Linked DNA regions of Homo sapiens: regions 2 and 3 are each reported to be linked to region 1. The links are microRNA targets in miRTarBase. Many come from high-throughput screens and were not tested one by one. Region 1 holds a microRNA gene; each other region holds the end of a gene's coding sequence.

The links. The annotated mature microRNA hsa-miR-661 reads UGCCUGGGUCUCUGGCCUGCGCGU and lies in region 1 at 2,305-2,328, shown strand. An mRNA with a match to its seed (bases 2 to 7 or 8) in the 3' UTR can be bound and repressed. Matches are read on the target gene's strand: a 7mer-m8 pairs with bases 2 to 8, a 7mer-A1 pairs with bases 2 to 7 and ends in A, and an 8mer does both.
Region 2: the mRNA of COX18 is a reported target of hsa-miR-661. Seed matches in the 3' UTR shown: 7mer-A1 at 298-304 and 7mer-m8 at 864-870.
Region 3: miRTarBase lists TBC1D13 as a target of hsa-miR-661. Seed matches in the 3' UTR shown: 7mer-m8 at 277-283 and 8mer at 670-677.

The regions. Positions count from the first base shown.
Region 1 is chr8:143,944,195-143,947,533 of GRCh38, reverse strand. It overlaps MIR661 (microRNA 661), which reads left to right and starts at 2,255; the gene lies at 2,255-2,343. LOC124902040 (a long non-coding RNA gene) reads right to left here. Exons shown (of 2, transcript XR_007061144.1): 2 at 1-1,968. It also overlaps a transcript of PLEC not described here. RefSeq lists enhancers at 1-37, 38-825.
Region 2 is chr4:73,055,098-73,058,266 of GRCh38, reverse strand. COX18 (cytochrome c oxidase assembly factor COX18) reads left to right here. Exons shown (of 6, transcript NM_001297732.2): 6 at 1-3,169. The coding sequence ends at 153. Among named protein-coding and RNA genes, the nearest start is that of COX18, 13 kb to the left of the region's middle.
Region 3 is chr9:128,807,724-128,810,723 of GRCh38, forward strand. TBC1D13 (TBC1 domain family member 13) reads left to right here. Exons shown (of 12, transcript NM_018201.5): 12 at 91-2,707. The coding sequence ends at 156. Among named protein-coding and RNA genes, the nearest start is that of ENDOG, 9.3 kb to the right of the region's middle.

The DNA.
Region 1 (3,339 bases):
ACCTCAGGTGATCCGCCTGCCTCAGCCTCCCAAAGTGCTGGGATTATAGCTACCGCCCAGCCCTAATTTACATTGCAAATGGCGATGCTTTGCCTGGCTCAAAATTCTGAAGGAACCGAGGATTGTGTGGAGGAGACGCCAGCTGAGCGCTGTCCATGCACCAGCAACGGGCAGGGGCCAGGTAGCCGCCACCACGGTGAGCGCTGTACACGCACAGCACCTAGAGCTGCTTCCCACAGCAAAGGGCAGGGGTTGGGTAGCCACCATGACTTCCCCTCTACACGGAGGACACGCCTGTGCCTTGACCTCCCCCCTTGACCCTCTGTGGCCCTGCGTCAAGGAGGAAGCCTGGAGGTGGCCTGGCTGCCTTGCCCTTCTTCCCAGCCACAGGGTGCTCTAGGTGGAGGGACTATGGCCCGGCCAGCTTTCCACAGGGATCACTGGCTTGGCCGAGTCACCCGTTTGCGGGATTTCTGTAGATCGCCGGCAGGCTTCTAAGGGGTAGTTACGATGGGATTTGATTTGCACTTCACTGGTCAGCAAGCACCTGGGTGGAGAGGTATGGAGAGGGGAGGCAGGTGTCACCATTGCCCCTGGACAGATGCCTGGGGCTGTGCTGGTTGGGGAGGACTCAGGTGGAGGAAGAGACCACCTTTGGGGCTGAGGAATGTGAGTCTCAAGGAGTGGGGTGTGGTGGGCAGTTTGGGGCTCTGCTCCCGCCTGGCTCCTGAAATACCGCTGGGCACATGGATGCCTGGAATGTGGGTGGGAGGGTGGGAGGGCAGGGCTGGGCTGGTGGGGCCTGCAGCGGGAAGGGGAGGCTACAGGGTGGGGTCTGCTGGGCGGGGGGTCTGCTGGGCGGGGCAGGAACAGTAGGGAAGACCCGTGGGCTGGGGCCGGAGGGCTCTCTGGGATTGCAGGCAGGCCAGTCCCCTGCACCCCCAGGCAGGTCTGCTGGGCTGGTCTGACCCGTCAGTCGGCTGGGCTTCATCTCTGCTTACTGACTAAGGGGTGGCTGCGAGGAGGAGCCGCTGCTACCAGGGCATGAGTGGGCCCTCCCTCTGCCTCCCACCCCTTCCCTCCTTCCTGCCTCGCCTTCCTCCCTGCCGGCTCTCGGAGCAGCCTGGCCTGTGTGGCAGCCATGGACAGGTACAGCATGGAGGAGCTGATTCAGCTGGGCCAAGGTAGGGCAGGCAGAGCTGGGGGCTGTGGGAGGCAGAGGAGAGGGCCGGGGCCGCCTCTGGCAGACCTGTCTCTTCCCGTTGTCCACCGTTCTGTGCCGTCAGACCTGGGATGCAGGGATAGGCACAGCCCCCTCTCGGAGCTGCCCCAGGGGTGTGTGTGATGTGTGTCCCGGAAGCACAGGCCTGTCCGGACCTCCGTGGAGTGGTAGAAGAACTGCCCGCTGCCAGCCTGGGGCACTCCTCCCGCCAGGAGCTGGTTCTCACCCAGGCCATTGAGTCAGGCTCCTCTGAGGCTTCCCCAGCACGTGGCAGGGAGTGGGCTGAAACGTCCGGCCTGTCGGCCCCTGCCCACTGCTGGCCAGATGCTGTCCTGGGCTCAGCTGGGAGTTGGGCCCTTTCTGGCATGCCTGGGTATCCCTGACCCTCAGGGCTGCCTGGGCCCGCCCGACCCCTGGCCGCCCAGAGTGGGCCACTGCAGGCATTTCCCTCGGCCGCACGTTTTTGAGGTGTGGGGCTGGAGAGCAGGAGGCTGGGGTGGGCCCGGCCCTCTTGTTGTCCGCGGGCTTCCCAGCATGGACCTGGGTGGCCTGCCCAGTGGCCCGGGGCCAGGCTGGTTCACTGTGCCTTGCTGTGGGCTGAGGTAACTACACTGGAGGCCACCTGGGCTCAGATGGCAGCGTGCGGGACAGCAGGCGGCGCCTCAGGCTCCTGGTCTGTATGAGGCCTTCATGGTATAGGACTTCATGGGGTTTGCTGAGGGTTCCATGTGGTGCCAGGAGCGACGCTGTGGAATGGGGTATACCGTCAACGTGCATTCTCCTGGGCCTGAGGGGTGCGCCCAGCAGACAGGGGTCCCAGGAAGAGGAGCAGGACTGTGCGTGTCCCACGTCCTGTTTCCCCGGCTGCATTGGGATCTGATCTGCATAGGATATGCTGTGGGCCTGCCTGTGGCCCGGCTCTCTGACCCAGGCCTTCCACAGAGCAGGGCTTCGGGACTCCTGGGTGGAGCCAGGCCAGTCTCCTGCCGTGGCCCAGGAGAGGCGTCTCCATCCCAGATCCCTGGGACCCCAGGAGAGGCTGTGCTGTGGGGCAGGCGCAGGCCTGAGCCCTGGTTTCGGGCTGCCTGGGTCTCTGGCCTGCGCGTGACTTTGGGGTGGCTGTCCCGGCCACCGGTGGGGCCAGGTGCTGTGTTGAGTGACCTGCGCAGGGCCCTCTGGGAGAATGGGCGGCCTCTTCTCTTGGCCCCTGTGGCCTTTCCAAGAGCACCCCCTGGCTTGGCAGGGCAGGTGGGTGGGGACTGCACCGCCTCCTGCAGGGACGTGAGCCCGCACCTCCCGCGCCCTGCTCTATTATATTAGAACCCCCTGTGGGAGCTGGGGGACCGAGGTGTCGGGTGGCACCGTCCAGCCAGACCTGACTGCAGCGGGGCCTGGGTGCCCTGGCGCCGTGCGTCATGTTCCAAGTCTGGGTGGTGACGGTCCTTGCGCGCCCTCCTCGGATATTTATATCCCCTGGGCCCCTGCCCACTGCTCCCCTCCCCCACAAGCTGCTGCTGACAGCAGCACGGCCGTGCCCTCCTCCCACCCGACGCTGCCGCCAGTGGCTTGTGCCTCCTCCGAGGGGCCTGTGACCTCCCACACCCCTGGCCCGCTCCGTCTGCCCCGTGGGCTCCTGCCACCGTCCCCGATGAAGATCGTGCCCGGTAGGTGGGCAGCCCTTGAAAGCCTTGTGAAATCCTGGCCCCTTGCTGGGGACAGGGGCCAGAGGGCTGGGGCTGAGGCTGGAGGCCAGGGGCGCTGTCCCTCGCCCTGCACACAGCCTGCCTCATGTGCCCTCACCCAGACCCCCTCAGCCCTGGTCTGCAGTCTCACTTTTGGGGTGTTGGGGCTGGTGAGGAGGGCGAAGTTGAAGGAGTGCAGTGGGTTCAGCTGCAGGCTTGAGGTGGGGGCTCTGGCATCCCTCCATGCCTGCCAGCTGTCCCCAGAGGGCAGCCTTGGAGGCAGAGTGGGCTGCTCGGGCCCCTCTTCTGGTGGGGACAGCAGGGGGAGGCTGGGAGGGAGGGAGGGTGTGTGCCGAGGCCGCGGGCAGTGCTGGGGGGCTGCGGCTTGGCCAGGCGTGCGGCTGGCCCCTCCTCCCGGCGGGTGTGGCCGCGGGG
Region 2 (3,169 bases), not on the chromosome of region 1:
TGCTCCAGCTTCGTGGGCCTTTCACAGAATTTGCTGCTGCGTTCTCCTGGATTTCGCCAACTTTGCCGAATACCATCGACCAAGTCAGATTCAGAAACTCCTTATAAAGACATATTTGCTGCCTTTAATACCAAGTTCATTTCAAGAAAATGACATATTTTCCAATAATTTTGAAACAGTTGCAGGAGTCACTATCATCTAAATGTATTTAGACTTAGAAATTCAGATGTTACTTGATTTCCTTTTATTTAAAATCATTAACTTCATGAAATATTGTAGGTTAAGATGTAATCCAGACCAGGCACAGTGGCTCATGCCTGTAATCCCAGCACTTTGGGAGGTCGAGGTGGGTGGATCACCTGAGGTCTGGAGTTTGAGACCAGCCTGGCCAACATGGTGAAACCCTGTCTGTACTAAAATAACAAAAAAATTAGCTGGGCTTAGTGGCAGGTGCCTGTAATCCCAGCTACTTGGGAGGCTGAGGCAGGAGAATCGCTTGAACCTGGAATACAGAGGTTTCAGTGAGCTGAGATCACCCCATTGCACTCCAGCCTGGACAACAAGAGTGAAACGCTATCAAAGAAAAAAAAAAGATGTAATCCAGATATATTTGACAGTAATTAAAATCTTTTAAATGTTATAAATGCAGTATGTTTGTGAAAGTATTAGAATAGAACCAAAGTGCCTGTCTCTGTTTATAAAGTTACAGTTTGTTAGAGCTACCAGAACTTTGGAGAATAGGGTTAGCTACTGAATGATGGCAAGTTAAACTAAACAATACTGCATATTACTGTTTTGTAAAATAAGAGGATCAGTGAGATGATTCATGTTTTTTTTTTTTGAGATGGAGTCTCACTGTGTCACCCAGGCTGGAGTGCAGTGGCGCAATCTCAGCTCACTGCAACCTCCATCTCCCGGATTCCAGTGATTTTCCTGCCTCAGCCTCCAAGTATCTGGGATTGCAGGTGCACACCACCACGCCCAGCTAATTTTTGTATTTTTAGTAGAGATGGGGTTTCACCATGTTGGACAGGCTGGTCTGGAACTGCTGACCTCAACTAATCCACCCTCCTTGGCCTCCCATAGTGCTGGGATTACAGGCATGAGCCACCTCACCCAGCATTTTTTTTTTTTAATTTTTTTAATGAGACAGAGTCTCTCTCTGTCACCTAGGCTGGAGTGCAGTGGCACGATCTCGGCTCACTGCAACCTCTGCCTCCCGTGTTCAAGCAATTCTCCTACCTCAGCCTACTGGGTAGCTGGGACTACAGGGGTGCACCACCATGCCCAGCTAAGTTTTGTATTTTTAGTAGAGATGGGATTTCACCATGTTGGCTAGGCTGGTCTTGAACTCCTGGCCTCAAGTGATCTGCCCACCTTGGCCTCCCAAAGTGCTGGGATTACAGGCGTGAGCCACTGTGCCCAGCTGAGATGTTTCTTATTATTTTGGAGGTGGAGAGGATTTTAGACCTCTTTGAGCATCTGAAAAAAGGCTATATATGTATGGTTTTCTCTTCAGAAAAATCTTAAGACTCACAATACGGGGACTTCCTTGTTACCAGGAAGATTTTCTGGCAATTCCTAGTTAATAAATCTTATTCTAATGGAACATACATTGATCTTGAGTTAATGCGTGGTTGAAAAAAAAAGCGGGGGCAACTTGAAATATATGCAGTAAAGTAGTCCATGCATACAAGTCCCTAACATGGTAGATGATGTTGCCTCCCGGCCCTGCTCAGAAAGAATACAAAAAGTGTACATTCCTTTTTCTATAATTTAAGAAGTCTGGAATACAGAGTGTAACACTGTGTACTGCTAGCACCCAAAGTGGAAAATCTTAAGCATTCAGATTGTTTAGTCAAAGAAGAAAACCAGAAGGGCAGTTGCCTATTGAGGTGATTTTAAACCTGTTTATTTGTAAGGATTAAGTACCCTAATAGGCTTAAACTATGATAGAGGTTTAATACAGAAAAAATTGACAGGTATTATAAATTGTGGATCCAGTTACTTGCTTATTTAATTTGTAAAGAGGTAAAATTAGCTCTGGTTGAGATATCAAGTATGGCAGGTATTTGAGAAGGCTATAAATCATAATTTTCATTTAGTTAAAATATGGACCTGATTCTGGGAAACCCTATCATTCCATCTCAATGTTTTACAATAAAATAAAAACTAAAGTGAAATTCATTAGTCATTTCTTTGATTGATGTCTCTTAAATTTTAGTTCACCTGCTTAATGAAGTTATGACATTTTTTAATAGAAAAAATGTACAGCATACAGAGGTAAGAATTCTGCTTCCCTGAGAATTTATTTTAGACATAGATGGTGGCAATTAAGACTAGGTTCTTTTTTCATACAAGTTCCTAGTCCTGGTTTCTGACTGTCCTATTGGGGCAATTGTGCTTTCCAACCACATTGAAGGAATTGAAATATCCTCATTATTTGTGGATTTTATATTTGTAAATTTGCCTCCTTGCTCAAATCTATCCATAACCCCAGAACCAGTACTTGCACAAGTGCTTTTGAGCCATTTGTAGGCAAAAATGTGAGTCACCTCCCAACAGAAGTGAAACAAATGGTACTCTGCCTTCTAGTTTCAGCTCTCATACCGTAAACATGTATCCTTTTTGAGTCTACTTAGTCCCATCTCTTCCTAATTTCTGTTCTTTTTGTTGGTGATTTTACTGTTTAAAATGGCCTCCAAATGCCCTGCTGGAGTGCTTTCTGATGTTCCTAAGCTCAGGAAGGCTTAGGAGAAAATAAGTATATTAGATAAGCTTCATTCATGCACAAGTTATAATGCTGTTGGCAGAGAGTTCAGTGTTACTGAATCAACAATATGTTGCATTGTTCTGTTGACAAAAACAAAGCTTGCAGAAACCTAACCCTGTATGTTTTCTAGGAGCAGTGATTTGGTATTCACTACTTCAGTGTTTGTGGACTTTATGGAACATAAGTACCACAAATAATGCAAATTGACTATATTTGCAGCGTGTACAATCAAGGATGCAGAGGCAGAAATGTGTGTGCAGCTTAGGTCATAGTAAAAAGAGGAAAGAATTTGAGGAAAATTTTGCCAGTTACATATTACCTCTGGAATAACTTTGCCTTTGCCGTGTGTGTTACTGTGTACACTCAGATATTTTTCTCATAATGGCCTTTGCCGTG
Region 3 (3,000 bases), not on the chromosome of region 1:
AGCATGGCAACGGGTCCCAGCAGGGAGGGTGTGGGTGTGGCAGGGGTGAAGTGGCTTCAGAGGCAACTGTTGGCCTTTTCCTGTGCCCAGGACTACCCCATCACAGATGTCTGCCAGATCCTGCAGAAAGCCAAGGAGCTCCAAGACTCAAAGTAGCCCGGCGGCAAGAGGCCCATGTTCCGGAGAGAAGCCTCCCGACCCTGTGCCCTGGCTCCCGGGACACATAGAAACCTGTAGGAACCCAGCCTGAGGGGAAGCCACAGGATCGGCCCGAGACCCAGGCCATGCCCACTGGGGACACACTGTGCCGTGCTCCTTCTGCCGCCACGCCCAGCTCCCCACCTGCCCTGCACTCTGCCCTCTTTGCCCAGGATACTGAGGAGGGCTGGAGCTCGGGAAGTTGTCCTTCCTGGGCCAGGGCCGTTTCTGGCACTGGGAGGCTGGCAGGGGCCCCTCCCTGCCTCGGCTCTGCCGCCCCAGCCTCAGTTCCTGCTTCTGGTCTTCTCCTGGGCTCCACTCAGGGGAGGTGCTTGGCCAATGGGCCAGAAACCGCTTCTGAGCGGGGCACTTCGGCTGCTCCACAGGGAAGGCGACACTGAAAGCTGAGTCCTGCCGTCTGTCTCACCCACAGATGTCTGTAGTCGGTCGGTGTGAATGTGGGCCCAAGTCCCCAGGCATCTTCTCCGTGTGTGTGTGTGTGTGTGTGTGTGTGTGTGTGTGTGTGTGTGTGTGTTAGGGAGTGAGGGTCTCTCAGGCCTCCAGGTCTCCCAGCCCCTCCTTCTCTGTCTCTACCTCTCTGCCTGTCTCCTTCCACCTCCTTCCCAGAGTGGGACTGTGTCTTGCTTCATGATTCCTCTCTCCATTACTCTCCCTGCCCTTCTCTGTTGGGGTGCCTTATCCTGAGCCACCTCCTCTCCCCGCTTGCCTCTGCTCCCCTGAACCTGGGAGACAGATGAGGAGACTGGCTCAGCAAGGCCCCTGGAGGTCAAGCTTGGCCTTTGCCTCCTGTTCCCATCCCCCAGCCCTGGCTCCTAGGTCCTCCCAACTGGGAGGGAGTCCTCCGTGCCTCACTTAGAGGGTTCTGAACCCGTTCCCTACACAGAAATCTTGGAAACCAAATGCTGCTGAGTAAGGATGAAGCTTTGAGCCTCCTGCCCCTGCTTTCTGCCCAGGGAGGGAGAAGGAAGAGGGGGAGCTGGTTTTTCTGGAGGTTCCCCCAGAGGCCCTCCTGTCCGAAAAGAAAAGGACCTTGATTCTGAGCCCAGGGTCGGAACCCATTGCTTCAGAAGAGTTGTCATTCCCTCGGCTTCCAGGTCCCAACCCAGGGTTGGGTTGAGTGAGTCCCACAAAGGGCAAGTGGGGCCCGAGGAAGCCTCTCTGGGGCCAGGGGTAGCTGAGCTTAAAGGCCCTGGGTCCTGCCAGTTCCAGGAGGGCCATGTCTGTGCCTCTGTGTACCCCTCCACCCGCTGCGGGCTGAGGGAGGTGCAGGGCCTTCTCTGACCCCTGCCTGAGCTGTTCCCAGGGCTGGAGCAGGTGTACCCTGAGCAGGGGCAGCTGGCCACTCCCAGTTCTCACCAAGTCACCTCCCTCCTTGTACAAGGTTTGCGTCCGGAAGCCGGGTGCCATAGTGAGGACCCTCGTCCTCCAGACTGGCTGGCAGGAGTCAGGCCCCAGCAGCCCTCCTGCCCCCAAAGCTTTCCGAGTCTGGTGGGCAGGACTTCTCGCTGCCCTTCCAAGCCCGGCTTTGGGCCAGGAAAGGCTTCCCCAGGTGGCTCTTCTACCAGGCTTTTCCTTTGATGCCGCCTGGATTTCCGCACCTGCCTGTCTCCTCTCCCAGAGCACAGTATTTGGGAGACTTTGACTATTTATTCAGACTCCTGGCTATGTATTGCACATTGGCAAGTGCTCTGGGGATGAGGCATGGGTATAGGAAGGGAGAAAGGAGTTGGAGACAAGATCCTCTTCATTTTCCAAGATCAAAGTCAGCCTCTTCTCCCCATGCTTCTAGGAACTGCCTGGTTTTCGAGCAGGTCCTGGCTGAGCGGGCTCTGAGTTCTGTACTGGAATTGAGTGTAAAGATGGGAAGAGAACTGGGCTGACTCCAGGACCTCCAGGATGAGGCAGAGGCATGATGCTTCCTGCTCACCTGGGCCACCCTCTCTCCAGGACTTGTCAGCTGGTGGTTCAGCCCCTTCTCCAACCCCTTCATAAGCTTGGGCCACTGCCTGGGACCCAGCAGACACTGCCCAGGACTCTTTAGTGCACTCACTCTTGTCTGCCCCCTACCTTCCCTCCTGGAACCACACTACTTGAATCACCATTACTTTGCCTCGCTGGCAGAGTTGGGTCAAGTGCCCTCTCCTTGACCTTGAGATGAAGGTCAAGAGCACAGGGACCAGGCCTTGGTTAGGCTGAGCTCCCAGCAGGACACCGCCTGCAGAAAGGACCTGCCCTGATAATGTCCCTTCCCCAGATTCTCAAGCAGATGCCCAAGGGAGGTCCCCACAGAGCCAGAGTGCCTGAGGCTTCCTGCTTGAGAACCTGCCCCCTGGATCTTGGACACTTACAGATTGAGCTGTATGAATTCAGCGGGTCTCACTCCAGAGGGTCAGAACGTTTGCTTTAGTTTTTTCATCTGTTTTGTTCCTTGAGTCAGTGCTGTTGATGACGAGTTGTCTTGAATAAATCATGTGTTCTTTGCAATGGGCATTGGTGCTGTGATGAGCTGAAACTTTGGAGACCTCAGAACAGGGAAAAATGAACAGGGATGGAGTCAGAGTCTCTTAGAGTAGCCCTTCTAAGAAAAGGTCCAGGAAATCCTTCTGGGAAGAGCCTGTTGGATTCTTCCAGTTCAGCCTCAGCAGTCTGCAGCTGGGGGAGGAGGGAGTGAGTACTGGCTAAGGAGGTTCTGCATACATGATTACATAGCCTGTTATTTTTCAGATTTAAAAAAGCTTAGACCATCCATTATATGTGGAAAAAGCATTTGACAAAATTCAA